Linked DNA regions of Homo sapiens. The protein of the gene in region 1 interacts with the protein of each later gene in a pairwise test. Each region holds a gene or a part of one and is shown in the gene's direction. Other genes may lie near its edges.

Region 1 (7,031 bases):
TGGAATTTACCATCAAATAGGTAGGGTATGTTGTTGAGGTCTTAATTTATATTTTTCTCTTAATCTGTATTTCTTCTAATGACTAATGATGTTGCATATCTTTTCATGCCTTTATTTGTCATCCATATATGGCTTCTTTGATGAAATGTCTCTTCAAACCTTTTGCCCATTTTTTTGGGTTACTATTGAGGTATGAGAGTTCAAAAAATAGACACTCTGGATATAAATTTTTTTTTTTTTTTTTTTTTTTTTTTTTTTGTGGACAGAGTCTTGCCCTGTCACCCAGGCTGGAGTGCAATGGCGTGATCTCGGCTCACTGCAACCTCTGCCTCCCGGGTTCAAGTGATTCTCCTGCTTCAGCCTCCCAAGTAGCTGGGACTACAGGCGCCTGCCACCATGCCAGGCTAATTTTTGTATTTTTAGTAGAGTCGGGGTTTCACCATATTGGCCAGGCTGGTCTCGAACTACTGACCTTGTGATCCACCCACCTCGGCCTCCCAAAGTGCTGAGATTACAGGCGTGAGCCATCTTGCCCAGCCTGGATATAAATTATTTACCAGGGCCTGGCATGATGGCTCACACTTGTAATTCCGGCACTTAGAGAGTCTGAGGCAGGTGGATTGCTTGAGTCAAGGAGTTCGAGACCAGCCTGGGCAACATGGGGAAACTCCATCCTCTATAACAAATACAATAATTAATCAGGCATGGTGGTGCACACCTGTAGTCCCAGCACTAAGGAAGTTGAGGTGGGAGGATCACTTGAGCCTGGGAAGTCGAGGTAGCAGTGAGTCGTGAGCATGCCACTACACTCCAGCTCTTTTGAGACACAGCAAGACCCTATCTCAAAAAAAAAAAAAAAAAAAAAAACAACCACACACACACATTCTTATCAGATACGTGATTTGCAAATAGCTGCTTCAGTTTTTGGCTTGTCTTTCCATTCTCTTTCTGGGGCTGCAGTGACCTATCATAATGCCATCATACTCCTGGGCTCAAGTGATTCTCTGCCTCATCCTCTCAAGTAGCTGGGACTACAGGTGCATGCCACCATGCCCGCCTCAAATTTTTGATGCTGTTGTAGATGGTATTTTAAATTTCAATTTCAGATTGTTTATTGCTGGTGTACTACAAATGCCATTGACATTTGTGTATTGATTTTACGACCTGTAGTCTTGGTCATTTATTTGATCTGATAGTTTTTTGTAGATTTTGTGCCAGAGTTTTCAATAAATAAAACAAATAAAACCAGTTTTACTTCCTTCTTTGCTAATTTGAATGCCTTTTTTTTTTCCTTGCCTTATTGCACAGGCTAGAATCCCCAGTACAATATTGAACATAAGTTGTCAGAGCAGAAATCCTTGCCTTGTTCCTGATCTTAAGTTGAAAGCACTGTTCTTCACCATTAAGTGTGATGCTTTTTATAGACACTCTCTATCAAGTTGAGGAAGTTTCCTTGTAATCTTAGGAATGGATACTGGATTTTGTCCAATGCATTTGCTGCATGTATTGAGATTATCAAATGGTTTTTCTTTTTTAGTTTGTTAATATGGTAAATTACATTGCTTGATTTACCAATGCTAATTCAACCTTGCATTCCTAGGATAAGCCCCTGTTTGGTTATAATGTATTATCTTTTTTATATATTTTTATGTATTTATATATTTATATATCTTTTTTATATAATCTACTTTTTACTGCCTTGTCTCATGTAAACCTGTGTAATTTCCCATTGGGTCCACCTTAGGAAACAGTCTTTAAAGTTTTCTCCGTAAAGCAAGTACCAGTATACTCTTTTATGGTCAATACAATGCTAATTCAACCTTGCATTCCTAGGATAAGCACCTGTTTGGATATAATGTATTATCTTTTTTATATACTGTGAAATAAAAGTGACTAGAATTGTGCATATTATGTTTATGAGAGATATTGGTCCATAGTTTGCTTGTTTAATATCTAGAGTTTGGGTATTAGTGTAATGCTGGCCCCACAGAATGAGCTGGGAAGTATTCCCTCCTCTTCAATTTTTGGAGGACTTTATCTAGAATTGGAATTATGTTTTCCTTATATATACCATGTTAACACCCTACAAAAGAAAGCCTAAGTAGCTGTAATACTATCAGACAAAATATACTTCAGAGCAAAGAACATTATCAGCAAAGAGGAGGGTCATTTGTAAAGTGGATAATTTCATAATAATGAAACTTTCATAAAGGATAAATTCATACAAATAAGAGAATAACTATGTTTATGCAACTAATAGCTGAGCTGCAAAGTACATGAAGCAGAAATTGATAGAACTACAATTGAAAAAAACCAGTAATAGTCAGAAATTTCAATACTCTCAATAATTAGTAGAATAAGTAGACAGTAAATCAGAAAGGATATAGATTTGAACACTAATATCAACCAACTTGACATGATTGACATTTATAGAACACTCCATGCAACAACTGCAAAAAACACATTCATTTCAAATGCACAGTGAGTATTTACCAAGACAGACTATATACTCTGGGCCACAGAACAAGTGTCAATAAGTTTAAAATTATTAATAGTGTACGAAGTACCTTCTCTGATCACAATGGGATTAAATCAGAAATCAGTAACAGGCAGCTACCTGGAAAACTCCTCCACATTTGCAGACCAACACTTACAAAAAACCCATGGTCAAAAAAAGAAAGCAATAGGGAAATTACAAAGTATTTTGAAATGAAGGAAAATGAAAATACAATATATCAAAATATGTGGAATGTAGCTAAAACAGTATAGAGGGACACTTATCACACCAAATGCCTGTACAAACAAGAGACATCTAAAATTAATGGTCATCAGTTTCTGAGTTAAGAAACTAGAGAAACAAAACAAGAAATTTAAAAATTAAAAAATAGCAGAGTAAAGGAAACAATAAACATAAGAGCAGAAATCAATAAAATAGAAAACAGAAAACCAGTAGAGAAAATCCAAGAAAGCAAAAACGGGCTTTGAGATTTGAGATCCGTAAACCGAGAAGCCCCTCACCAGATCGATCAGAAAAAAAGATGACACACAAATTACCAATTTCAGAACCTGAGGGGTCAGATTTTATAGACATTAAGTGGACAATAAAGGAATACAGCTAACAGATTTGCATTATTAAACAATTTAGACATTTCTACAAATTATTAAAGCTCACTCAAGAGGCGATATCAATAAATATTTGTTGAATTAGTGAATACCAGCTATTACTATGGGCAAGGCGCTAAGTCCAGGCTTTAGAGAGAAAGAAAGCATTTTTTTTTTTTTTTTTTTTTGAGACAAAGTCTTGCTCTGTCGCCCAGGCTGGAGTGCTGTGGCACGATCTCGGCTCACTGCAACCTCCGCCTCCCGGGTTCAAGCGATTCGCCAGCCTCAGCCTCTTGAGTAGCGGGGTTACAGGCGCACGCCACCAAGCTCGGCTAATTTTTGTATTTTTAGTAAAGATGGGGTTTCACCATGTTGGCCAGGCTGGTCTCGAACTCCTGACCTCGTGATCCGCCCGCCTCAGCCTCCCAAAGTGCTAGGATTACAGGGGTGAGCCACCGCGTCCGGCCAAAGAAAGCATTTTCCTTCCAAAGAAGCTCTCAGGTTACTGGAGGGGCAAAAGAACAGATAAAGTTTAATGTTGCTCCGGGGGAGAAGATTAGGGGAACACTGGTTAAAGAAAGGCTTCTCTGGGGACAAGTCACTCGGCCAACACACGAAGGACCCACAGAAAACGTCTGTTACAGCTAGAACGGCTGCACGTGAGTTCAGGCAAGGGGCCCAGAAGTGGCCCTCCGGCGACTGCCTGCTCCACCCCTCTTAGTGCAGTCCTAACCCTTTCCCAACTTGTGCTGGCAGCAGTTAAGAAACTCCTTTCAAATCCGGCTGTCTTGCGCCTGCGCATTCAAGCAAAGCGCTCATAGGCGGGGTGGGGGGGGTGGGGGGGGTTGGGGGGTGGGGGGGGTTGGGGGGTGGGAGGGAGGCGGCCACCGGAAGTGTGACCTTTCGCTCCCCGCTGCCTATTCTCATCCGGGGTCACGTCGGTCTTCCGGGTGTCTTTGACAGGGTTTTCTACGCCGCTTTTTCGGCGACTTTTTGCTCTTCCGCTTTTTGCCACCGCCCCCAACCTTCTATATCCTTGCAGCCCCTACCTTTTCTTGTGTTGCTCCTCCCCTGGCAGCCGTGAGGGGGGTTAGATCTCAGCCGGAGCCGGAGCTGGGCCTAGCTGTCCCACGGGCCACCACTACCTCCTTTGGTTCGGGAGAAAGCTACGACCAAGTACGCCCAGCTCGGGCCTTAGAACTTCTGAACGGGCAGTGCGGGTAGGCCCTGCTTAGCCCTTCCCGGAGGACACCTGTGAGTTTAGGGGGTTTCGGAGAGGAACGCAGCAGTGTAGGCCCAGGTCGGCGGCGGGGCACGGGAAACTTTTCCGAAACGGTAGCGTTTTGTTTTGCGTGGGAGGTTCCAGCAGTATCTCTTGGTTATTCCAAATTTATGGGCGGCATCTGGGCTGCTGTACATTTTGAAGAATCTTAGGACCGCTTACTTTGCTTACTCGTTTTCTATTCCTCGCGTACTGCCTCGTCCACCACTCCAGGACCAAAAGAGGAAGATAGTCTTGGGACCCTTGCATGGTGTTTCAAAGGGTGGTGAAGAACTAAGGTACGTAGCTGGATTAATTAAAAAATTTAAAAGGCATTTATCTTTTAAGCCTTAATTAAATGGCATGAAATTGCTTCAGCTTTTCACTTTATAGGAAAATGCACAGGTTAAGACTGTTGTGTGCGTTTCTTTTCTTGTTCAGCCTTTGTAGAAAAGCTCTTCGTCTCTCAAGGTGAGAACACGAAAGGCTTATATGTCTCAAAACTTATGGATTCTCTAAATTACTTGTCTTATCTCTTTCAACTCTTTGTTTAAAGTAGCAGATATTTTTCATTAGGGTGAACAGAGAAGAAACAAAGGGAAACTGTAAAACACAAGCTAAATAACACATGTGCAGTGTATGATTTTGTGAAGAAAGAGATTGTAACTGATTACTAAATCTGTGTTTTTATATTACAGGTAACATAGTAACTTTTGTAAATATCTTCATATTGTATGGTTCAGTACCACCAGGCTTCTAACACGTACTGATTAACAGCCATAAGGCTATTAATTTATACTGATTAATAGCCAGTAATAGTGACGTTACTTTGTTGGTGTGAATAGCCCTAATTATGTCTGTTCTGGAAATGTCCTGTAACAGGTTCCATGTGAAATAGGCCGTTTATGAGTTGTTTAAGAAATGCCCATTTGGAGCCATGTGACTAGATTATTTTTTTGAACACTTGGGTGTAATTTAATTCTTAACCAAAAGGAATATCCTGTTCAAAACCTGGAAGTAGTTTTCACAGTGGGTTGGCAGGATTTAGGAACTGGATTTTTCGTATTGTGGAGAAAAGTGGGTTTGAGATATCAAAGGTATTTGGACAAAATGGACAGTATCTTGGTTTAGCCAGTAAATTTCTGGTTTTCATTCTAGGTATATTCTGCTTTCTAAAGAATCCTGATGAAGGAATTATATATAACCTTGAGTGTTCTCTAATTTGTTGGAGGAGAGGTCAAGTTGAGGACAGAAATTCCAGGTTGCAAATTCCAGGACCAAATACTTTATAACTAGAAATTACTAGGAATTAATCTTTTTTTTTTTTTTTTTTTTTTTTTTTGCAAGACGGAATCTTGATCTTGTCACCCAGGCTACAGTGCAATGGCACTATCTTGGCTCACTGCAGCCTCTGCCTCCTGGGTTCAAGCGATCTCCTGCCTCAGCCTGCCGAGTAGCTGGGATTACAGGCACGTGCCACTATGCTTGGCTAATTTTTGTATTTTTAGTAGAGGCAGGGTTTCACCATGTTGGCCAGGCTGGTCTCCAACTCCTGACCTCAGGTGATCCATCCGCCTCGGCCTCCCAAAGTGCTGGGATTACAGGCGTGAGCCACTGTGCCCGGCCGAATTAATCTACTCTTTTACTACCTTGTCTCATGTAAACCTGTGTAATTTCCCATTGGGTCCACCTTAGGAAACCGTCTTTAAGGTTTTCTCCGTAAAGAAAGTACCAGTATACTCTTTCATGGTCAAGTACAGATTGTGGAACTGATAACTTTTAAGGTAAGGAAAATTGGATATTGCCAATATCTGGATTTTATGTATCTATCATAAAATTTGTCACATAGGAGATGGTAGAAGACCATAGTTAATGTGGAGTAACGTTTTATATAGCTAATCTCTACTTAAGAAACCTTTCATTCAGAGTATGAAGAAAATGATTTAAAATTTTGTGGAGGTCCCCTTATTTCTGTTACAGTAATAGTTTTACTGTATTTTGTGAAACTCTACAGTCTCTTTAAAAAAATGATTATGTTGTTTATGATAATTGTTTTGATGTCATTTTTATTTTCATCAAAATCAATGTGAAATGTATTAGAAAAAGGCATAGAAATTCATAGGCGTTTCATTTACTTCCTCAACTCTAGATGTCTTTCAGAATACCTATATTGGTGAGCATAGAACGAATGCGTCGGAATGATTTTCCTCTACTTGAAGCCTACCTTCTTTAAAAAGAGCCTGACTTGAGGGCCAAAATTCATACTGAGGAGAGGCTGACAGATCCTTTGTTTTGCAGGGGCTCCAGAGCTTGATATATTTCTGGGAATTTGGAATATGCTAAACTAGATTTCTGCCCTAGACTAAACATCTGGCTGTGGACTCAATCTAAGTTTTTAAGCTGGGGATAATTTGGTCATTAACTTGGTAGAGTAGTTCTGAGCCACAAGTCATCTTTAGACTTAGTTTGGATTTGGCTGTGTAAGAGATGAAAACAAGGTGAGGCCTGGGCTCTTGATGTCATTTTGCATCTTCAAATCTTAATATACATGGACCTTATTCAGTTATAGAGGAAAAACAGCATATTTTTTATAGGTATAAACAAAAGTATCTAGGCTTTTTGCTATGAACCGATTTAAATAAACCTGAAAGTACAAGATTTTAATTCT
Region 2 (7,025 bases), on another chromosome or scaffold:
AGGAGGGATGGATTAGGCCCAGACAAAAAAGCCCTGGCCTCTTGATCTGCCCTCTTTCTGCTTACTGGGGCCTGGCTCACTCTGGGTGGTCAAGAGCCTCTTTTGTCAAGAGGAATCTCACCCCCTCCCTAAACTCCAATTCATCCCAGTGGGCCTTGGGCAGCAATCTTTGTCTTCTTTTTTCAGCCTTCCATCCTGTAAAGTTTGAGCAGGATGGGCAGTGACTCAGGAAGGTGAAACCCATCAGGGCCTTGCCTGCTCCTTCAGTGGGGAGTCCTTGTGAAGGGCTTGTGCTGTGGAAAACCAGTCTCTCTAGCTTTTGTAATTTTCTCAAGCAACGAAAAAGCAAACAAACGCAAAAAGCTTATTCTGCTTTAATACCCATTTCCGTCAAAGGAGTGTATGTGTGTGTTAGGAGAGTGCTCAGGCTCATACTGGAAAGTTAGGTGTTGGTGAGGACTGCTTCAGGTGCGATCCTGACCTGGTCAGACCACGTATCTTTTGATGTTTATGGTAATTCCACATTCCTTCATGATGGGAGAAGGGAGACGGAGATGATAAGATGTATCAAGGGATTTATCAAGTGTAAGTTCACCTTTATCTCTTTTAGGCTTCTGCCTCACTAATACGTTACTACTACTCAGCAATTTTGAGTTTAGGGGATTTCAGACCAAATCCTCTTTTCTGCTGGGCTGGGTTTTGTGCAAATATCAATGGTGAATTGTCTCTAAGCATCAGTAAAGAACTAATGGGAAGTAATGCTTCAGGATAAAAACAGAGAAAAGTCTGGGAAACATAAATTCCAGCAGTCAGGCTGACACTGAAATCTGATTCCAGCTTATCTCTGTTGCTTATCTCTTTAGGATCAGATATCTTAAAGGACATACTCATTTCATTTTTAAAAGTTTCTAAAGGAAGGACCTACTGATCAGGTAACCACCTCTACCCACCCCACCCCAGTTAGCCAGGAAGATAAGGAAGGACCACTGACAGGCTGCAGGCCAAACACGTTCCCCCTGAGGGCTCTGCCATTTGGAATCAGTTGTATGTATCAGTTTTATGGTCTTCTGCTATCACAGTGGGAACAGACAAGCATGGGCCACAGTGTACTGAGGATTTAAAAGACTCAGAATGTCTTAAAATAGCCTGGTCGCTAAACAACAATAATAGTTTGGCATTCCTGAGAATGGTTGTTTGTTTAAAATTCAAGGCATTGGTTCTGGTAGCAGTTAGTTTCCACTAGCTGGGCTCCCACGTGAGTTACTCTGGAAATCACATGGTCTCATCACAACAGGAAGCACAGGGATCTATTAAGCCCCTCCCAGCCCCTCTGAGGGTGGTCCCTAAGCCTTGGGCTACAGGCACCTACACACCCTAGAACACAGTAGATGCTGTGGACCTGATCATTTTAAGGACTCTGGTGTTGTTGCTTTCACCCTGACTAATAATGATCAGTCCACTCTTAGGGGCTTATTTCTCCCACCTAGATGCACAGGCAGTCTGTCTTTCTATCACCAAGTCCTGAGGAGGTAGTTTTTACTGCCTTGTTGAGAGGAGAAGGGAGTCAGGAAGGCCAACCAGCAACAGTATGTTAAACCACATTGTTGGGGTCCCATCATATCTGAAAATGGGTACAAACTGCCCTCTGAACGTATCATCAGCAGTCAGCTCCTGACTCCCTACCATCCTGAGAGAAGCTCGTGCCATGCAAGCTGGCTGTGGGGAAGCCTCACACAGGTTCTGCTACTTTCTGGTTTCGCCATAGAGCAGTCCCACATCACACCGAGCAAAGCAGTTTTCTGTTGCTAGCCCCCTTTCTGTATTGAAGAGTTTCGGGGGATGGGAAGGATGCAGAGACACTGGGCCTGGAATGGCTCCTTAGATGGTAGGAAGGAATAAAGTGACTCTGTTGACCTTGCACTGTAGACTCAGGGAAAGTACTGAATGGCAGAGTTACTAATGACTTCTATCAAATCACCTTTTGCTGACTCCCGTGTTAGTCCTGGATAGCGTCCTTGGCACACTTGATTTCAGATTTTGACAGGTGATAAAAGCACATATTGAGATTGCTGCTTCACAGGGCCCAGATTCCTTGCTATTGACTGATGTTATTTTTGCCTTTCCTGAGAAGCTCCCTCATGTGTTTGCTGTTACTTTTAATGGATTGCTTCCTGATACATGGGAGGCCCAGGCACTTGCCCTTCAATCTGGCCAACTGCAGCCTGACCTGGGTGGAATTGGAGCTGCCTGAGGAACACTTAGACCAGGCACTTGGCAATATGACTCACTTTTTTCCCCTAAAAGTTAGTCTGTAAAGAGCAACTGGAAATGTTCCTGTTTACATCTTTGTGGAGTGTAATTTTAATCAGGATTCTCAAGGTTTTTCACTTCAATTCTCTGAATTTTTAAGATCTTAAATGCCCTGTGGTCACAGTATTTGGCCCTGTACTTCTGAGGGCTACGTGGAAAATGCTTGATGATCATTACTGACTTGTCAATAGTAATTATGCCAATAAACAGAAAAGTCTTCCAGTTCTGGTCTGTTGAGGCCCTGCCGTTAAGCCATGGTTTTCCCAAAGGCTCTGCAGTGGGTTCTCATGGGATGTCTTTCATTGGTTCTTTCTCTCCCTTTTCCTCAGAGGGTCGCATTTCCTGTTTTGTGCAGGAAATTCCCACTGTTTTGGGTTCCCCAGCTACAGTCGGAAAGACATCAGAGTGTTCAAGGCGGAGTCCAGGCCTGAGATCTCAGCAGGCCAGACAGGCAGCAGATGCTTGTTGCTTTTCTTGTGTTATATTTTTCGTTCCCTTACTTAGCATTTGTGGGACCAAAGCCAACAAACAACAGGTTGTTAAAAGAATGAGAGTAATTTGACTTCCGACAGTGATTGGGGCTCGGGGTTGTTGGGTGTTTTGTTTTCTGATTTGAAACTAGCTGTATGGTAACCACTAACTCTCGCCTTATTCTTTTCTTGCAGATGAGCTCACAGTGCCTGCACTTTACCCCAGTAGCCCTGAAGTGTGGGCCCCGTACCCTCTGTACCCAGCGGAGTTAGCGCCTGCTCTACCTCCTCCTGCTTTCACCTATCCCGCTTCACTGCATGCCCAGGTAATTGATACCCATCGGCCAGGACTTCACTCACTTCACCACCAGTCCTTTCAAACTTGGTTCCCGAGAGCACACCATACAACTAACACCTATCCAGCTAACAGATCCACCCTCAAGAGATTAATGATCCCCTCTAAATCAAGCTGACACTCCTTCAGGACTGACGAGGATCGTCTGACAGCAATGATATCACCCACTGCCTGATGTTTGCCCCAAATGACACCTCTCTCTTCCTTAATGATCTCACCTCATATCGCACATGAGAGACCGGGGCAGGTTTATCCACCTGGCTCCCAGCTAGCTAGAGGGCATCACCAGAGTGTATACGTGTGTGCCTTGTGTGGAAGGGCTGCAGAGGAAGGTGTGTGCTAGGAGAAGGGGATATGTGCGTCTGTGCGTGTTTCTGTGTGTTGAGAGTTTTCCACTCTCGTGTACGGTGAGAAGAATCTCTGACCAAAGGGAAAGCTTCCAGGGGGGAAGGCTGTACTTTCTTAAATATGTTACAGGAAAGATTAAGGGTTCCTTCTCTCCATTTTCAGGAAACCCTGTAGAAAAGGAGATACAAGATAGTGTCTAAGATGGAATTACAGGTCAAGGTAGAGATCTCTATTCTGACCAGCTTTCTTTCTTAGTTAAAAATAGCCTGATTTTTATAAACAAACTTCCTGTTTCTCCGCAAAGATTACTGTCTACATACTAACACTTCCTCTCCCCTTGGAGAAAATATTTCTCTTAGCTTCGCTTTTAGTGCAAGTGGTAGTAATCAGTGTAAAGATTCACCTCTGGAGATCACCACTCATTCTTTGGCCTGCAAAGATTGATGACCAGTAACAAATAGAAAGTACGTACGTAGGTTTCATTTGTCTTTCTGCATGTGTAATTCAGCCTTTAAATTTTAAATTTTTAAAAATTATTAGGCTGGACAGGCAGAGTTTTCGTTTGCCTGTTTTGCTCAGTGTTTGTTTACAAGGCTGGGTGAAATAAACAGCTTCCCAGAAAACCTCCTTCTGACTTAAAACTCTTTTATGTTGTACAGAATTCCCTGTCTTGATAAAGACCACCTAGAAGCAGCCCCCAGCGAGGGTTCTTGAAAGTCATGGGGTCGAGATTGTTGTTGGCTGAACATCTTTTAATTCTGAGTTACCAACACGTTGTGCGTGCATTGATGACCCGGCTTCCTGGCCTGCCCTTGGTGCCTGAGCCCCAGTAATGATTGCCCTCTATGTTGGGAGAAGAAGGGAGAAAGTAGTACAAGTAGTGAAGAAAAAAATGTAGGTGGTGTTGGTGGTTGAGAGTACATGGCACAGAAAATAAAGGAGCCAGGATTACCTGTGCCTTTGGCTTCTCCTTCCCCTGCTGCTTTTTCTTCCTTTTTCCATGTCAGTGCTTGGGAACCCTCACAACTGGCAGGTAACGGGGTCGGGATAAAATGTAAACCTGTGGGTGTCTTCTGCTGAGTCATTAGGATCTTTGTAGCAGGCTGCGGATAAATATGTGGATGACATGGGGCAACTAAGAGCCCCTTTTGCTTGCCACCTCCCACCCCTGCTCTGGATGGTGTCTCCTCTTGCTAGACTGCCGGGTACAGATCACGTGGCAATTAAGGCAAATGTTAATAAATACCATGAAACAGTGGTTTGCATAGTCTTCTGAATAGCCATGGCTTTGGTTAGTCAGCAACAAAGCCTTTCACCCTTACCCTGGATAATCAAGAGTTGACAACAGCCAGAAAGTACTGGGAATAGTGGCTTTTGGCCATGACATCTGCTCATTCTTCATTCATGTAATGGGTCAAATCAGAAGTAATTCTGGAGATACGGTATGGTAAGAGAAGGGCCTAAAGAGTCTCAAGAGATTAGAAAGCATATGCCATTGTAAGGAAGGATGGGGAGAGACAGTGCCAAGATTAAATGGACTCAGCCATTTGACTTAATGGGATGCACTGCCCATGGTGGCACCCTCCCCTGGGAGTTCTTCCTTGATCTTGAGACTTTCCCAAACTGGAATCCACTTAGCTCTGCCACATCGGTCCCAGATTTGGTGGGACTCTCCTCTGGTATCAGTTTTCAACGCCACTTCTTGTTTGGAGTCATTCCCAGTGCAGTCATGGACTCTATGAACAAATACGGTTATTTAAATGTATTTGTCCAGTATGAGAATCAGAATGAACTAGTAGAGGCTTTACAGATCAGCTGGTCTGACCCATTTTACAGATGAGGAAACAGGCCTGAGAAGATGGAGGGAGTTACCCACAATCTGAAGGGGCTCTACCATGACTAGACCCAGGTCACCTGCCTCCCAGGCCTGGCTCTTTCCACTCCGAGGTGCTGGCTCACCACAGACTTATTCTTTAATGGAATTTTGGAAAGGCCTCACTCCAGTGACTCTTTGGATCTTTCTTCTCTAAGTAGATGGGAAGCCTGTAAGAAGAGACTTGGAGGCAAAGCAAAGGGAATCAGCACTTAACCCTCACCCAAAGGGCCCAAGAGAATCTTTAGTAACTGGAGGCAGAGCAGACTGGAGCCTCTACGGGGCATCTCCCCATATTGGAGAATTCAGTCTTTGTTTTGGAAATCTTATAATGTCTTTGGAGAGGCTTTAAATAATTTTGTTTTTCTTAGCAATGTTATGCTCTATTTTGAGACATGGATTTTTTTTTTCTTCTAGTGTTTCTCTCCTGAGGCAAAGCCCAACACACCTGTCTTTTGTCCACTTCTCCAGCAAATTAGATTTGTCTCTGGGAATGTGTTTGTAACATACCAACCTACTGCAGACCAGCAGAGGGAGCTCCCATGTTGAATTTGTTTGTTAGCTATTTTCCCCCCTTTCACAAAAACTATTTCTTGACGACCTTTGAGAGATTTCAATAAAAATTTTAATCAGAGCAAAAATGAACTCAAGTAGACTGCAGCGTTTTGTTTTCATGGTGATGCAATTTTGGAGCAAAGGTGTTACTCTCTGACTGAGGTTTTGGGAGAATTGGGCCTGTGACACCAAGTCTATTTTACATAGAAGGACTCAGAACGAGCTTCCTGGAGAGGCCAGGTCCTGGAGCCGAGGCCACACTGCTGCTGCTTGTCTCTCCCTGGGCTCCCAGAAGAGCCACCAAGAGCTGCATGTTGGAAGCGTCTCATCCACCAGGAGACCTCACTTCAGCAGGGATGCTGCGTCTAGCTAGGGGAGCCCCTGTGAAACGTGTGGGTGCAGTGTGCAGTCTGCCCACCGGGATCCACAGGAAGGAAGACCAGGAGACAAAGTGTCATTGAAAAGAAGTTGAGTCACATTTCTAGCTCTGCCCCGGCTTCAGCTGTGGTCTGGTACCCCTTCAGATTTCCCAGCTCTAAAGTAAGGATACTTATTTGCCATCAGATCCCGTTTTTTAGAAATTATTGGATAAGGTAATAGGACTGAAAGCCTCAGTACTGACTTAATGTTTAGAGATCAAAGAGCGACCCTGTGCAGCAGACATCGGATTGCTAAGAAGATCATTAACATTTTTAAAAGTGATCATCCAGTTTACTTTCAAGGTCATTGGTATTTGAAATGTGTTAATTAGGAGAGGAAACTTTCATCTGTTGCTTTCAAAAAGCTTATACACTGAAGAGAGCACACAGCTGTTCTGTCACCTCACATTCACACACTTCCGCCTCTTAGGTTTGAGCTCATGTTCTGCTTTCAGTCTTGTTGTGATGGGCAGAGAGAAAGTCGTTAAAGTATACTGTCCTTACCACATTCTCGAAACACACCATACACCCTGTACTTCAGGCAGAGTCACAGTGTGGGGCCAGAAGCTTCTGTAGGTAAGTAGGACTGAGAGAGAAAGTCCTGGTTACCTAATTCCTTTTCAGAGGCCTCATTTGTCCAGAGTAACAGCAGTTCTATCGGATTTCTAATAGGGCTGCTGTACAGCTTACCTGGA
Region 3 (6,808 bases), on another chromosome or scaffold:
CCTCACCAGCTCAGGAGCTTCTTGTCCGTAGGAGAGGCTTTACTGGATGTGGGGTTCGGTGTTTATGGAGATGCAGCCCTTCTCCCTCCAGCTTCGTGCACGTGTGCACAGACAGCGAGTGAGGCCGTCAGGGTGGGCTCCTGCCACGTCTTGGCCCCTCCCCAGAGTCGCTGGACTTAGGAGCTAGTCTGCATGTGACAGACCTTCCCAGTCAGTGGCAGGCGTTTCCCGGGACAGTGTCTGTGTGGCGGTCGGCGTGTGTGCAGCTGCCTGTACATGCTGGACCCCAGACTCCCTTGTCCCTGTGATGTTCATGCCAGGGTAATGCAAGTTGAATCAAATCGTGGTGCCACAACGCCCCCTGGAGTAGTTTGTGCCCGAAGCGGCTGTCTGACTCTTCCGCGCAGCCTCAGAAGCGCCGGGGTCGGTTCCTCACTCAATGTGCGCGGGGATGCGGCTCCCAGGAGACTGTGCTGCTGTTTCTGCTCTTCTGCATCCTCCATGGCTCCTGGGGCTGAGCCGGGTCCCCGGACGGTGGGACTGGGGAAGGCTTTGCCCGACGGAGCTCGGGGCTCTGTGCCTGGCGCTGAGCTCTCCCGTCCCGCACACTGGCCTCCCTGTCTGGGCCCCTCTCGCATTTCCTCCTGGCAGCTTAGACCTCTTCCTTCCCTTCCTCGCCCTCTGGCCTCCTCTCCAGCCTGTGCTCCTCAGGACGCTGCTTATGTACTTCTCTCTTCTAGGAGCGACCCCGAAGCCAGAGCCAGAGCCAGAGCAGGTCATAAAAAACTACACGGAAGAGCTGAAAGTGCCCCCAGATGAGGTTTGTGTCTTGGGACCTTGGCTGCCTTTGTTTCTGTTTGGAAACAACTCCACATGGAAAGGACATCCGCCCCATCTTGCTTGAAGGGTGCTTCCCAGGTGCCTCTGGGTGCCAGGGCCTTGCTCCAGCCCCTTTGGTTTCATCTCCCAGCCTCCCGAGACCCACATCGTTATGGTCTGAGCTTTGCACTTAAGGAGCTGTGGTCCTGAGCAAAGCCCCTCCTCTCCCGGCCCTGGCCTCTCCATAGCCTGATGGCCATCCTGGGAGCAGGAATTCCAGAGACAAGGGATGGGCCAGCCTGCCCCACTCTCCACCTTGCGGATGCTGGTGTAGAAGTGAGGTGGCCTCGTCCAGGTGGCTGTCCTGCCCCCCGGCTATTGGGAGAGCTGGTCAAGGTTCTTATAATTTTTTTATTCTTAAAGACGGGTGCACACTGTCGCCCAGGCTCAGTGCAGTGGCGTGATCACAGCTCACTGCAGCCCTGTCCTCCTGACCTCCTGTAATGAACAGGACCAATCAGACTCCTGTTGCGCTTCCATAGAACCTGAACCTCTACTGAGCCACGTTTTGGGGGCTGCAGCACCACTTTCCCCTGATTTTAGCTGGGAGCCCTGGAGATACTGTTGGGGGAGGGGGTGGGTGAACGGCCGGGAGTACCAGTACCCAGAGATCTTCAGATACTTGGGGGCGGGTGGAAGGCCAGGAGCCCCAGTACCCAGGGACTCTTCACTTGTCTCTTTCTCCAGTCTGTTGAGTCCATGAGAAAAATCTGGTAAGTAAAGGTTTGGAAAGGAGCCTGAACGTCCTCCTCATGTGTCCCACCCCTTCCACAAGCCCTTGCCACATTCCCGCCTGCCCAGCGCTCAGCTCTGTCTCGGCCCTGGTGTCCATCTGGTGTGACTGGGCCGTTTCACCCCAGGCTCCTCCTCTCCAAGCTGCCGTCTGCACAGCCAGCACGCAGCTTGGATCATGGGAGCACTCCCTGCCTGGAACCGCCAGCAGGACCCCCAACTCACACACAGCCCCAAGCCCCTGAGTGTGGCAGCCAGACCCCCGAGGGCGCGCCTCTCCCTGATCCTGTCTCATCTCCTGCTCCCAGCCCACCCCCTGCCAGCTTTAGTGCCCATGAGCTGGCTCCTCGTTCAGAACGTCCTCCTCCCTCTTCCGGGTGCCCACTCTGTGCTTGTCCATCTGGCAATTCCTGTCTCCCTTGTAAGACCCCACGCCGAGGGCCTCCCCCAGGATCCTGCCCTGTCCGTCCTCCCCATTTGGTGGCTTCTGCTGTCATGTCGGGCCTGTGCTGCTGGTAAGCCCTTCAGAGGCACAGGTCCCGGTGACTCACCTGTGTCTCCAGCCTGTGGAATGGACTTTTTTTTTTTTTTTTCTGAGACGGAGTCTCGCTCTGTCACCCAGGCTGGAGTGCAGTGGCACAATCTCAGCTCTGCAACCTCTGCCCCCTGAGTTCAAGCGATTCTCTTGCCTCAGCCTCCCGAGTAGCTGGGATTATAGGCACCTGCCAACACGCCCAGCTAATTTTTGTATTCTTAGTAGAGATGGGGTTTTCCCGTGTTGGCCAGGCTGGCCTCAAATTCCTGACCTCAAGTGATCGGCCTCCTAGAGTGCTGGGATTACAGGCCTGAGCCACTGCGCCTGGCCTCGGAATTGACTTTGACTGCACTTCCAGCATTTCAGCACATGAAAGCCTCTTTTTCCAAGACTGGCCCACGTCAGCCCAGCCCACTGTTGGCGAGCATGACCCATGTTTGGTCTCCTCCAGGACTGCATCATCTGCATGGAGAAGCTGTCCACAGCGTCTGGATACAGCGATGTGACTGACAGCAAGGCAATCGGGTCCCTAGCTGTGGGCCACCTCACCAAGTGCAGCCATGCCTTCCACCTGCTGTGCCTCCTGGCCATGTACTGCAACGGCAATAAGGTGCCCCCACTGGCCCAGGGCGGAGGCGGGTGGCCCGCCCCCACAGTCCTGAGCTGTCCCCTGCAGGGGCGGGAGGGTTCCGGGGGTGGCTGTAGGAATGGGCCTCTGCAAAAGATGGTGCTGGGCGTGGGGCCAGCTTGAAGACCTTTCTAAAGGCCTGGCCGGCTCTCCTAGGCCTGCCCTACTCTTCTAGGTCTGCCCCACACTTTAGAAAGGAGGACCAGTGCGGCTGGTTCCCTCCACCCCTCCAGCCAGGCCTGAGAAGATTCTGGGCTTCTCTGAGCCCCAGGGCACCGCCTCCCCCTCGGCCACTTGTAAGCACCGCAGACACTGTCTCCCTTCTTCCTTACAGCATCCCTGTGCAGTCAGCACAGTGCTCATGAGGGAGAGGCTCAGAGCAGGGGCTGTGCCCAGGGTCACCCCACTGGGAGGTGGGAGCCAGGCCTTGAGGCAGGGCTGATCCTGGGCCCCACAGCAGCCTACACATGAAGAGCCGCGCCCAGACTGACCCCCAGCTGCTCTCCCTGCATCGGCCTTCAGGCGGGATGGGCAGAGTTTAGAGGCTTAGAGAACCGAGTCATGTGGCGCATCGGAGCCTGGCTCGGCCTTCCCTAGTGTCTGCCATCCTGGGCAGCCAGGGCCCAGCTCCGCAGATCAGACGCTGCAAGGCTGTCTATCCGACTGCAAATGCGATTCACCCGTGGAGATTTCTGCTCAGGATCCGAGTTTTCCCACTCGCCACCTGTCTCCTGATAGCATGTCCCTTAACGAAAATGGCATGAGTTGCTGGTGCAAAACAAAGCTTTCCAGGGAAGCTGTTGGAAGCCAGTTTCCGGGCAGGAGGCTGCCAGCAACTCCCTGGGATGGTGGCCAGCCCATTCCCGGGGCCCTTTACCATCTGACGGTGGAGGTGACGGTCTTGGGTGTTCTCAGACTGCCAGCTCAGTGGGTTGCGTCTGCCTCTGTCAGGATGGAAGTCTGCAGTGTCCCTCCTGCAAAACCATCTATGGAGAGAAGACGGGGACCCAGCCCCAGGGAAAGATGGAGGTATTACGGTTCCAGATGTCGCTCCCCGGCCACGAGGACTGCGGGACCATCCTCATAGTTTACAGCATTCCCCATGGTATCCAGGTGAGGGGCCTTCTTGAGTCCCCCACTCCTGGCCACTCCTCTTCCCACCCCGCCCACATCCCAGCAGTCTGCCCCTGGATCAAGGCTGAGGATGCCCATGTGGCCAAGCTCAGGCCCCCAGGTCCCCTAAGGCCAGAGCCATGGAGGGCCGGGAATGGGGAGGCAGTGCCGGGGCTTAGGGTAAGCTCTTAGGGCTGTGGCAGCAAAAGGCTGGCCCTCCACTCTTTCCTGAACCAAGGAAGCCTTCCTAGAGGAGGAGCCATCTTAGCTGGACTTGTTCTGGGCAGAAGGGCAGGCAGTTCAGTGGGAGGAACCCTGCGGAGGGGCTGGAGAAGCGGGGCCACAGCAGGGTGTGCGTCGAGGAACCTTGGGTTGGGAGTGGCAGGGCCAGGCGTGTGGGTGTCAGGAGCCCAGGCACAAGGCCCCAGAGTCCCAGAGGAGACTCAGACGGGCCCTAGCCCTTTCGGTCTCCTGTCTTGAGCCAAGGTGGATCGTAGGGCCTGGGGCAGGGTGGGAAGATAACGGGGCAGCAGGCAGCGGGCACTGGCTGCCAGCCAAGGTCCACCTGTGGTGGATGGAGGCATCTTTTTGTCTTGTTGAACCATGAGCCTTTCCCCTGGTTTCCCTCCACTTCTCCACAGCTCAGAGGGAAATTCAGGAACATTCGGGGTTGGCATCTCGGAGCGGGGGAGGAGCTGGAGCTGTGCAGGGGCCTGTCCCTGTGCGGGCTCTCGGAGCACCCTATCCTGGTGTCTGTTCCTCCCGCAGGGCCCTGAGCACCCCAATCCCGGAAAGCCGTTCACTGCCAGAGGGTTTCCCCGCCAGTGCTACCTTCCAGACAACGCCCAGGGCCGCAAGGTGAGTGCCACCATGCGCCCGGGGGGTGGACGGGGCCCTGACCAGGCGGCAGGAGGCCAGGCGCCACACTGGACTCTGCTTCTGCAGCGGAGGACAGAGGCTGAGGCCGGGCCGAGTGTCTGCTGCTCTTTTCTGGGGACCTGCTGTAGGTACAGGGAGGGCAGCCTGGACCTCACATAGCCTCGAGGGAGGAGGAGAGGCCATCACCTTCCAGCACCCTGCCGGGTGGGGTCAGGAGCTCCTGAGAGTCAGAGTGTGACAGGCAGGGACCGGGGGCTGTGTTAGACCAGGTGACCACGGAAGGCTGGAGCAGTGGTGTCTGCACTGAGACATGAATAGGGACTTTGTGGCTGCAGAGAAGGTTGGGGACGAGCCTTCCAGGAAGGCAGGATAGTGGGAGCCCGTGGTGTGGGTGTGAAGACAGGGTGCCCCCCAGGCCAGCACCAGGGGTAGAGCTGGTTCTGAGCGCCCAGCGAAGCCACGGAGGTGGAGCTGCTGATGGAGCTTTGGAAAAGCTCTGGCCGTGTGAGAATGGGCTTGAGGTGGCGGAGCTGGAGGCGGGGAGAGGGCAGGGAGAGGGCAGGGAGGCCTGGATTCCACCAGGGAGGGTGGGTGGGCGGGCGCTCGTCCAGCAACGGCTGTGGAAGCAGGGAGGACTCGAGCATGGTGCCTGGGCATCAGGACCAAACGGATGGCAGTGCCAGGCACTGAGGCGGGGTGGGCTGGAGCCCAGGTTCATGTGGGATCCTAATGTACTATCCAGTGGGCAGTTTTGGGGTCCCTGCAGATGGGGTGAGTGCCAGGGAGTGGATGAGTCACCTGGGAGGGGCTGGGATGGGAAGAACATGGTGCCAACCCGTGCCTGCTCACTGAGCCCCTCTCACTCTCCGTCCCCTCCTTCCTCTTCCCCCTCCTCCTCCCCGGGCAGGTCCTAGAGCTCCTGAAGGTGGCCTGGAAGAGGCGGCTCATCTTCACAGTGGGCACGTCCAGCACCACGGGTGAGACGGACACCGTGGTATGGAACGAGATCCACCACAAGACAGAGATGGACCGCAACATTACGGGCCACGGCTATCCCGACCCCAACTACCTGCAGAACGTGCTGGCTGAGCTGGCTGCCCAGGGGGTGACCGAGGACTGCCTGGAGCAGCAGTGACCTCGCACCCCAGCACGCCCGCCTCTGGTGGCCACCCCGCTGCCCCATGGCTGGCTGGGTGGCCAGGCAGGAAGTGCCCAGCCCGAGAGGCTGGGAGGTTTGTTGAGGGTGTGGGGTGTGCCCCACCTGAAGCCGGGGCTCCCCCTGCCTGCCTCTCTCTCCTCCTCCCCTCTGGGAATTGGGCAGCCCTGGGCAGTTGTACTCATGGGGGCTTAGGATGCAGCTACCTCAGTGCGCAGGGCCCGTCTGTCCTCTGGGGGCTGCTTCGGGCCCGCGGTGCTCGGGGCCTGGTGTGGGGCGAGTAGAGACTTCCCCAGCCTGGACGGGCGTGGGTTCTGGGTCAGCTTCTTTTACCTCAATTTTGTTTGCAATAAATGCTCTATAGCCAAAGCCAGCAGGTCCTGAGTGTGTGCATGCATGCGTGTGTGCGCACTTGTGTGTGTGTGTGCCCCCCCCCACTTCCTGCATCAGAGCAAGAGGGGGTTCCATGGGCTCATCGGCTCCCATTTGATAACTGAAGAACAGGCCACAGCCAGGCATGGAGGAGCCCACGGTACTGGGCTGTGCGGCCTCCACATGCCCTACACTGATCTCCCTGCCATGCCAGAGGCTGTCACCCCAGAGCACCAGCTGTCACCTTTGTGGCCCTGGGGTTGTGGTTCACAAAATGCCATTCACTTAGGATTGGAGCTGCTGTCTCTGTTTTACTGATGTGGAAACAGGTTCAAAGGTGCAATGACTTGAACCAGGCATGGTGACGCATGCCTGTTATCCCAGCTGCTCAGAAGGTCGAGACAGGAGGCTCACTGTAGTCCAGACATTTGAGACCAGCCTGAGCAAAATTGCAAGACCTCATCTCTAAAAAAAAAATTAGGCCAGGTGCAGTGGCTCACGCCTCTAATCCTAG
Region 4 (7,025 bases), on another chromosome or scaffold:
GTTCCTCTTTTTTTTCACATGAGAATCCTCTTCACTTGCCCTGGTGCCACACCCTATTCTAGTTGTAGGCCACACCAGAGGAAATTCCAGTCCTTCAAAAAAATTCTTTCCACCCATTCACTGCCTGGTATCTTTTTTCTTCTGCTGTTGCCAGAGGCAGTCCTCATCTACTTTCTCCAGGGACAGGTCAGCAGTAGGGGTCAGGAGATGCCCATATTTGTCCTTCTGGGTGGTTCTACCAGATGACTTCCAAATCTCCCTTCTAGGGTACACCCTGAAGCTGTTTTTTTTTTTCTTTTTTTTTTCTTTTGAGATGGAGCCTGGCTCTGTCACCCAGCCTGGAGTGTAGTCGCACGATCTCTCCTCACTGTAGCCTCCGCCTCCCAGGTTCAAGTGATTCTCCAGCCTCACCCTCCCGAGTAGCTGGGATTACAGGTGCCTACCACCATGCCGGGCTAATCTTTGTATTTTTAGTAGAGACAGGGTTTCATCATGTTGGCCAGGCTGGTCTGGAACTGTTGAGCTCAAGTGATCCGCCTGTCTCGGCTTCCCAAACTGCTGGGATTACAGGCGTGAGCCACTATGCCTGGCCCACCCTGAAGCTTTTAATCCAGCTGAGCTCAACTGGACAGGTCGGTAGCACCCAAGTGGCCTGAGTTTTACCCCAGGTGTGGTGTAGAAATTTCTTATTCTAGGGAGTGACTGTGTTATGGAGCCCTTTGTCCATGTCCTTTGTCTCCCTGCCACACCCAGGCTATACACTCACAGCTCAGAGGAAATCAGAGTCCTAAGGCCACTCGTACATCCTGCCTCTTTGCTGCCTTCTTGCTAGGAGTTGTAGGTTACGTTCCCATGTGGTCCTATGGACAGAGCTAGGGTCCAAGTATCCCTGACAGCACAGAGGTGGGGGGCATGGCTATATGTTGATAAGAGGCTGCCCTGAAGCGACCTGCTGGGCTTTGCTAAGATTTGCAGAAGTTGGTGATTTAAGCCTCCAACTCTGAATGCACGGAACTGGAACTGCATTCGAAATGTCCAGTCTGAGGGAGAGAGAAAATTGAGGAAGGAGAGTGTGTTGGAAAAGAAGAAAAAAAGACTTTCTAATATAGAAAGACCCAGTGTGTGTAAACCATCCCAAGATGAAATTGAATGCCTATCGTGTGCCAGGCACTGTGCTCAGACCTATGAGGAAACAGGAGGGAGTTAAGTTGGAAACCCTGTGGGCGGATAATACGGAAGACAGACTTTACACATGTAACTCTAATGTTGCACAGACACACAAAAAGCTGCAGAAGCACAGGGCAAGGAGGGGTGTGTGAGAAAGGCGGCATTTATGATTTCCTGTATCCTAAAGACTCATTCAGATGTCAGCTAATTAAGATTGAGGTTCCTGGTGGAGGGAACTTAGAAAGTGCTGAGCGTGTTTGGAGAAGAGTTAACAGTCCAGTTAACTCTTCTGTGCAGGATGCGTGTATGCATGTGTGTGTGTATAGAAGATATTTAAGGAAAGGTAGGTAAGTCCACAGTGTGGAAGGTCTTGAATGCTGACATTAGACTTTTTTCTGTAGGCGGCCAGGCCCTGTTGAAAATACAATATGTGGGCCATAAAACACTGAAATTGAGTTGCAGACTTGAAGGCCTGGATTTCCCAACCCTGAAAGTGCTTCATGCCAAGTGACATCATTCTTCCTGCCGGTCTCTTTCCACCCACTCCAACCCCAGATCAGGATACCAGCAGAGAGAGGCTGTGAGAGCATGAAGCTGCAACAAGTCAGTAGGGAGCAAACAAATATTGATTCAGATCAGGCCACAGAAGAGACAAGCTGGAGCAAGTGCTGTGTGTCCCTCCTGCTCAGTTTGATCGAGGTCACTGGGCCGAATTCCAGGAATTCTGGGGAATGAGTTGGCCCTGTGACTCAGTCATTAATCAAGACCATAAAACCAAGGAGAAGAATATCTGCTTTCAAAAAGGTTCTGATAAATAAAGATGCAGTAGGTGGGTGGAGGATGGAGTACAGTGGGAACCCCTCTCCTCACCCAGTACATTTTTTTTTTTTTTTTTTTTTAGTTTAAAATTCCAGTGTGGCCTGTAGACTGTGTGTCCAGGACTGTGTACAGTAAGAGCTTTGATGGAGAACCCAACTCTCCACACTCCCACCTCTACCCATTTTTGCTTTAAAATCTTCATTTGAATCACCAGTCCCTGATTGATTCACCATGGTTGCTAAGAATCTGTTTTGCGGTAACGCATCAACACTCCACGTTTAAACTGTGAAGTGGGTGTGTCCACAAAACTTCTGGATTAGACTCAGATTTGCCTGTGCAGACCAGCCCTGTTGCAGTATGTTTTTGTTTGTTCAGATTAACATTTGGGCTTTTTGGAACTGGTTCTTAATTTAGTTCAGTAGAATGTGTTTTTACTATTTGAAGTGTTGACTTTTAAGTTTTCTTTTGTTTGTTTGTTTTAACCTTTTTGTAAACTTTTACTCTTCTTTTTGGGAGTAAAGTTAAAACTGCTTCACTTGTCCTTTTTTTGTTTGTAACTGCACTTTCGTAGTGAAGCAATAGAATACAATAAAATCTATAGAGTTTTTTTTTTTTTAATAAGGACAAACCCTTAAATTATTAGGTTGGTACAAAAGTTAATTGTGGTTTTTGCCATTAAAAGTAATGGCAGTTATTTTTGCACCAACCTAAATAATATAGTCCTTATGTTAAATGTAAATGACTTGTTTCTCAATAACTGCACTGATTTCATTAATGATCAGCCTTGCACTGTGAGCTTTTTTAGCCAGGCATTCACAGTCTCATTTATCAGCCTTTTCAAGGCAGAAGAAACTGTTCTTTTCATTAGGGTGGGGCCAAGTGACCTGTTTTCCTACCCAAGTAGTGAATGATTTTAAACCAGTTTGAGGTGGGTATGGCTCTTATCAGTGAGTCTCCCTGTACCTCTAGTTTATTTCCTTAAACAGAAAAACGTTCTCTGATAAAGGGTCATTTTAATGATGTTGTCTAGTGACCCTGCCCTCCCTGGGAATGGAAGGCACGGCACTGATGTGTATGTAGATGTACTCATCAACAGATTGAATTTGCTGATTTTTTTTTTTTTTTCTTGTTGGAGAGTTGAAACCAGTCGGCAAGCTGGGTGAGGTTGAAGTGTTGGAAAGAGTGGTGCAAACTGCCATTTTCATGTTCTTTAGAGAAGTCTGCCAGAAAAGGAGTAGTGGTTCTGTTTTTAATGGATTTATGAGTTTTATACGGTGATGAGGAGTGAGTAGAGGTGAAATTGTCTCATACAGCATGTAGGCTTTATTTTTTATTTTCATTCAAAACAGTAAGTACACTGAAGTCAGAGTAGTTGTTTTCAGTAAGAAAATTCTGCCTCCAGAGCAAATGTTTTGGTGAATAGATAAATATGAGTACTGAGTCCCAATCATTTTGGCTCATAGGTTCCCCAGTATTTCCATAGGCAAGCTTAACTTTGCACCATTCAGAGACTTATATTTTAGGTTCCCCACAGGGCACCCCACTGGACGTGGCTCATTTTCCAGCCTGTAGTCTTGTTCTTCTGCCACCCTGGGGCATTATTCCTCTTCCCCTCTCCCCAGGCCTTCCCCCTTGCTTCTTGGCTGGAACCTCCCATGGTGATTCACCCTTCTCAGCCTAGGCAGACAGCACCTCCCTGTTAAGCCCTTAACTAATCCCGCTCTGATGGCTGTGATCTTTCTCTCTGTGTCTTAATCACTTGGAATAAAGAACCATTGTGGTGAGGTTGAAAGGGCATTGGCCCAGGAGTCTGGGGATCTGGGTTTTGGCCCTGCCTCAGCTACTTAATTCACTGGGTGACCCTGGACTAGACTCTCAGTGTGTCACAGAGGCACGAAGGGAAGAGAGCTCAAAGGTCCTGCAGGGTGGAAGTCTGCATTTCACAGTTTTATAAGTGTCTTTTGTATCCTTTAATATAGTGCAGGCTCAGCGTATGCTTGGTATGGGTTCGTTGATTAATTCCTTGCGTATTACCAGTGTTTGTAACCTACAGTAGCACTGCCAAGACTTCCTTTTCCTGCTTTCAAGGATAGCAGCACACTGACACATTCTCATTAGTCAAATATGCTATATTAAACTAATGTTTTAACAAACAGTGAATCGCAAAGCCAACTGTTCCTTCCAGCGAATAATAGATCATATGCAAAATGACTTTGCATTGCTAGGGGATTTGATGGAGTGAAGAAGCAAGCACTGTATTTTATTTCTTTTTATTTTGTTTTGTTTTTTGGACATAACCTCAAGATTTTATTGTCCTCATAATAAAACAAAAGATGATGCTTAGAACTGGATCACTTGGCCCTTTCTTTTGTTATCTCCTCCCAGTTGAAAATGTTTGCATGTCTTAACAGCCAGCATTTTCTTAGATCTGCAGATGGGGTCAGCACACTCAAGCCTCAGCACAACCTCCTTTGTAATTTTACCCGTTTTCCAGAAAATTGCCTTAGTCTACCCACCATAGTCACTCTGCTTCTTGTCATAACGCCGCTTTCCCTGGGCATACAGGGAGTCCTGGTATTGTGCCGTTTTGTGGGGTTGGTGCTTGCCACACTTCTTACAGAAAGCCCAGTGGGTTTTAGGAATGTTCACCATGTTTTCCGGAATGCTATCGGCATGGGAGGAAAGTGGCCATATTTTATTTCTAGGGTGAAAATGTTTGCCATTAAACTCACATGAAGTAGGAAATATTTATATGGATACAAAAGGCACCTGCATGGGATAATGTCAAATTTCATAGATACTGCTTTGTGGTAAGTGTGACTTTGTGGTTATTGTGATGTTTGTGTTTTGTTTTTTTTTTCTGCAAAATGGTTATACATAGTATAAATGTTATGCAAAATAGCAACTCATTGTTTTCAAGTTGATTTAGCACCTGCATTATGTAAAGATAATCTGAAATCTGTAGGGGGACTGGGACTATGTAGGGAAGATGAGGTCAACCATATACTTTCTACTGCTTTGAATTGTACCTATGCATTCACCATTTGAATACTTGGCACGTGTAGGGCACTTAAAACATTCTGCCGAATGGATGAATGAAGTGGTATCAAAAAGTGCCCTGGCAGTGAAAGGCAAGATAGAGTTCTGTAGAGTAGGGGTCGTGGTGACCCTGTTGGAGCAGATACTGAAGTAGTGGTGAGTGCGGAGAGGCAAGTCACATTTTGGCCCTAGTCAACTGTAGCTGAGGAGTAAACAGAGGGAACTGTTTACTGTTTACAGGATTCTGATGCTCATCTTTGAAGGCTGGGCTCTGCTGGAGGACTGATTTTGAATGATGTCAAATGATTTTGACAAGATTAAATGGGGAGATTTAGTTGGTGGTGGCATGCAGGACTGATTTGATGAAAGAGCAGCACAGTTATGAATGGTGAAACCGAAAGGAAGATTTGTGGGGCTTTTAACAGTCTCCTCAAGGTGTTGTGGCTGTGGGAGAAGAATTAACATGAATGGAGAGTGTAAAGAAGCCTATCAGATTGTCTTTGATCTGCACAGTACTGGGGAGTCCCATGTGGGACACGGGTAGGCAGCAGTCTACAAAGCTCAGAGCTGGAAAGACAACTTGAAAGAACAACACAATGAAAAGTTACCGTGCCTCTAGTTGAGATTTTCTAAACATCGGAACCAATGTGAGGTGTCTGATTTCATAAACAAGTGGAATTTAATCTATACTCTCTAAGTGGAAACAACTCTGTTTGCAACTCTGACTTGCTAGTTCCCTGGTTTTGCTTTTGTTTTACGTTTGGCATTTTTTATTTCTTGCCTGTTTATGGTAGAGACTAGAATTCTGCACAGCAGATGACAACAGTTTATCCCCTGCTGCAGACCTGGTCCAGTTCTGACTGAGTCCAGGGGTGATAGTTAAGGCCAGGGCTTGGGTGGTTTGATGTCCATCCTAGGAGTTTCACCTCTGCTTCGGTAATTCTCGGGCTGAGGGATACTGATGAGACCCTCTAGAATGTTTCTTGGTCCATGTTGAAGTTAGAGATTTCTTGCTCTGTCAAGAAGACTGTCAGCCTGGGCAAGGTAACGCGACATTATCTCTACTGGAAAAAAAAAAGCCAGGTGTAGTGGCACACGCCTGTAGTCCCAGCTACTTGGGAGGCTGAGGCAGGAGGATCTCTTGAGTCCTGGAGATCAAGGCTGCAGTGAGCTATGATTGCACCACTGCACTCCAGCCTGGGTAACAGAGAGAGAAACCCTGTCTCAGACAAAAAAAAAAAAAAAAAAGGTCTAGGTGTGGTGGCTAACCCCTGTAATCTCAGTGCTTTGGTAGGCTAAGGCGGAGGGATTGCTTGAGCCCAGGAATTCAAGACCAGCCTGGGCAACACAGTGGGACCTTGTCTCTACTGAAACATTAAAAAAAAAAGGAAAAAAAATGGAAAAAGGAAAAAGGAAATTAAATGGAAATAAGATATATTCAACATATCATAGTTGTAATTGTAATATATGATCAATATATAAATTATTGGGCTGGACACAGTGGTTTATGCCCGTAATCTCAGTGCTTGGATCACTTGAGGCTAGGAGTTCGAGACCAGCCTGGGCAACATAGCAAGACCCTGCCTTTACCAAGAAAGAAATTATAAATGAGAAATTTTATATAATTTTTTCATACTATGTCTTCAAAATTCAGAATGTCCTTTACACTTATAGCACATCTCAGTTTGAACTGACCACATTTCAGATGCTTTGTAGCCACATGAGGCTGGTGGCTACTGTATTGGACGGTTCTGCTACAGAGCAAGACTATTCTAAATTGTCTTTTTTTTTTTTTGAGACGGAGTTTTGCTCTTGTTGCCCAGGCTGGAGTGCAGTGGTGTGATCTTGGCTCACTGCTACCTCTGCCTTCTGGTTTCAAGCTATTCTCCTGTCTCAGCCTCCCGAGTAGTTGGGATTACAGGCGCCCGCCCCCACGCCCAGCTAATTTTTGTATTTTTAGTAGAGATGGGGTTTCACCATGTTGGCCAGGCTGGTCTCTA

Evidence for each region.
Region 2: the proteins of TENT2 (region 1) and RBPMS interact in binary tests that used the Homo sapiens proteins (3 or more experiments, as listed by UniProt).
Region 3: the proteins of TENT2 (region 1) and DTX2 interact in binary tests that used the Homo sapiens proteins (3 or more experiments, as listed by UniProt).
Region 4: the proteins of TENT2 (region 1) and ANXA2 interact in a two-hybrid assay, tested with the Homo sapiens proteins (one study listed by BioGRID).

What each region holds. Positions count from the first base shown.
Region 1 is NC_000005.10:79,608,414-79,615,444, forward strand, and holds the start of TENT2 (poly(A) RNA polymerase GLD2), read left to right. Parts: upstream 1-4,027; 5' UTR 4,028-4,662; intron 4,663-4,804; exon of another isoform or gene 4,805-4,834; intron 4,835-5,521; exon of another isoform or gene 5,522-6,147; intron 6,148-7,031. UniProt on the Homo sapiens protein: Cytoplasmic poly(A) RNA polymerase that adds successive AMP monomers to the 3'-end of specific RNAs, forming a poly(A) tail. In contrast to the canonical nuclear poly(A) RNA polymerase, it only adds poly(A) to selected cytoplasmic mRNAs.
Region 2 is NC_000008.11:30,541,519-30,548,543, forward strand, and holds part of RBPMS (RNA-binding protein with multiple splicing), read left to right. Parts: intron 1-2,975; coding exon 2,976-3,106; coding exon of another isoform or gene 3,107-3,253; exon of another isoform or gene 3,254-3,645; coding exon of another isoform or gene 3,646-3,657; exon of another isoform or gene 3,658-4,110; intron 4,111-4,142; exon of another isoform or gene 4,143-5,773; coding exon of another isoform or gene 5,774-5,905; exon of another isoform or gene 5,906-6,001; intron 6,002-7,025.
Region 3 is NC_000007.14:76,499,701-76,506,508, forward strand, and holds the end of DTX2 (probable E3 ubiquitin-protein ligase DTX2), read left to right. Parts: intron 1-740; coding exon 741-820; intron 821-2,504; coding exon of another isoform or gene 2,505-2,519; exon of another isoform or gene 2,520-2,534; intron 2,535-2,597; coding exon 2,598-2,756; intron 2,757-3,725; coding exon 3,726-3,887; intron 3,888-4,655; coding exon 4,656-4,745; intron 4,746-5,673; coding exon 5,674-5,901; 3' UTR 5,902-6,291; downstream 6,292-6,808. UniProt on the Homo sapiens protein: Regulator of Notch signaling, a signaling pathway involved in cell-cell communications that regulates a broad spectrum of cell-fate determinations.
Region 4 is NC_000015.10:60,387,984-60,395,008, reverse strand, and holds part of ANXA2 (annexin A2), read left to right. Parts: exon of another isoform or gene 1-632; intron 633-1,568; exon of another isoform or gene 1,569-4,796; intron 4,797-7,025. UniProt on the Homo sapiens protein: Calcium-regulated membrane-binding protein whose affinity for calcium is greatly enhanced by anionic phospholipids. It binds two calcium ions with high affinity. May be involved in heat-stress response.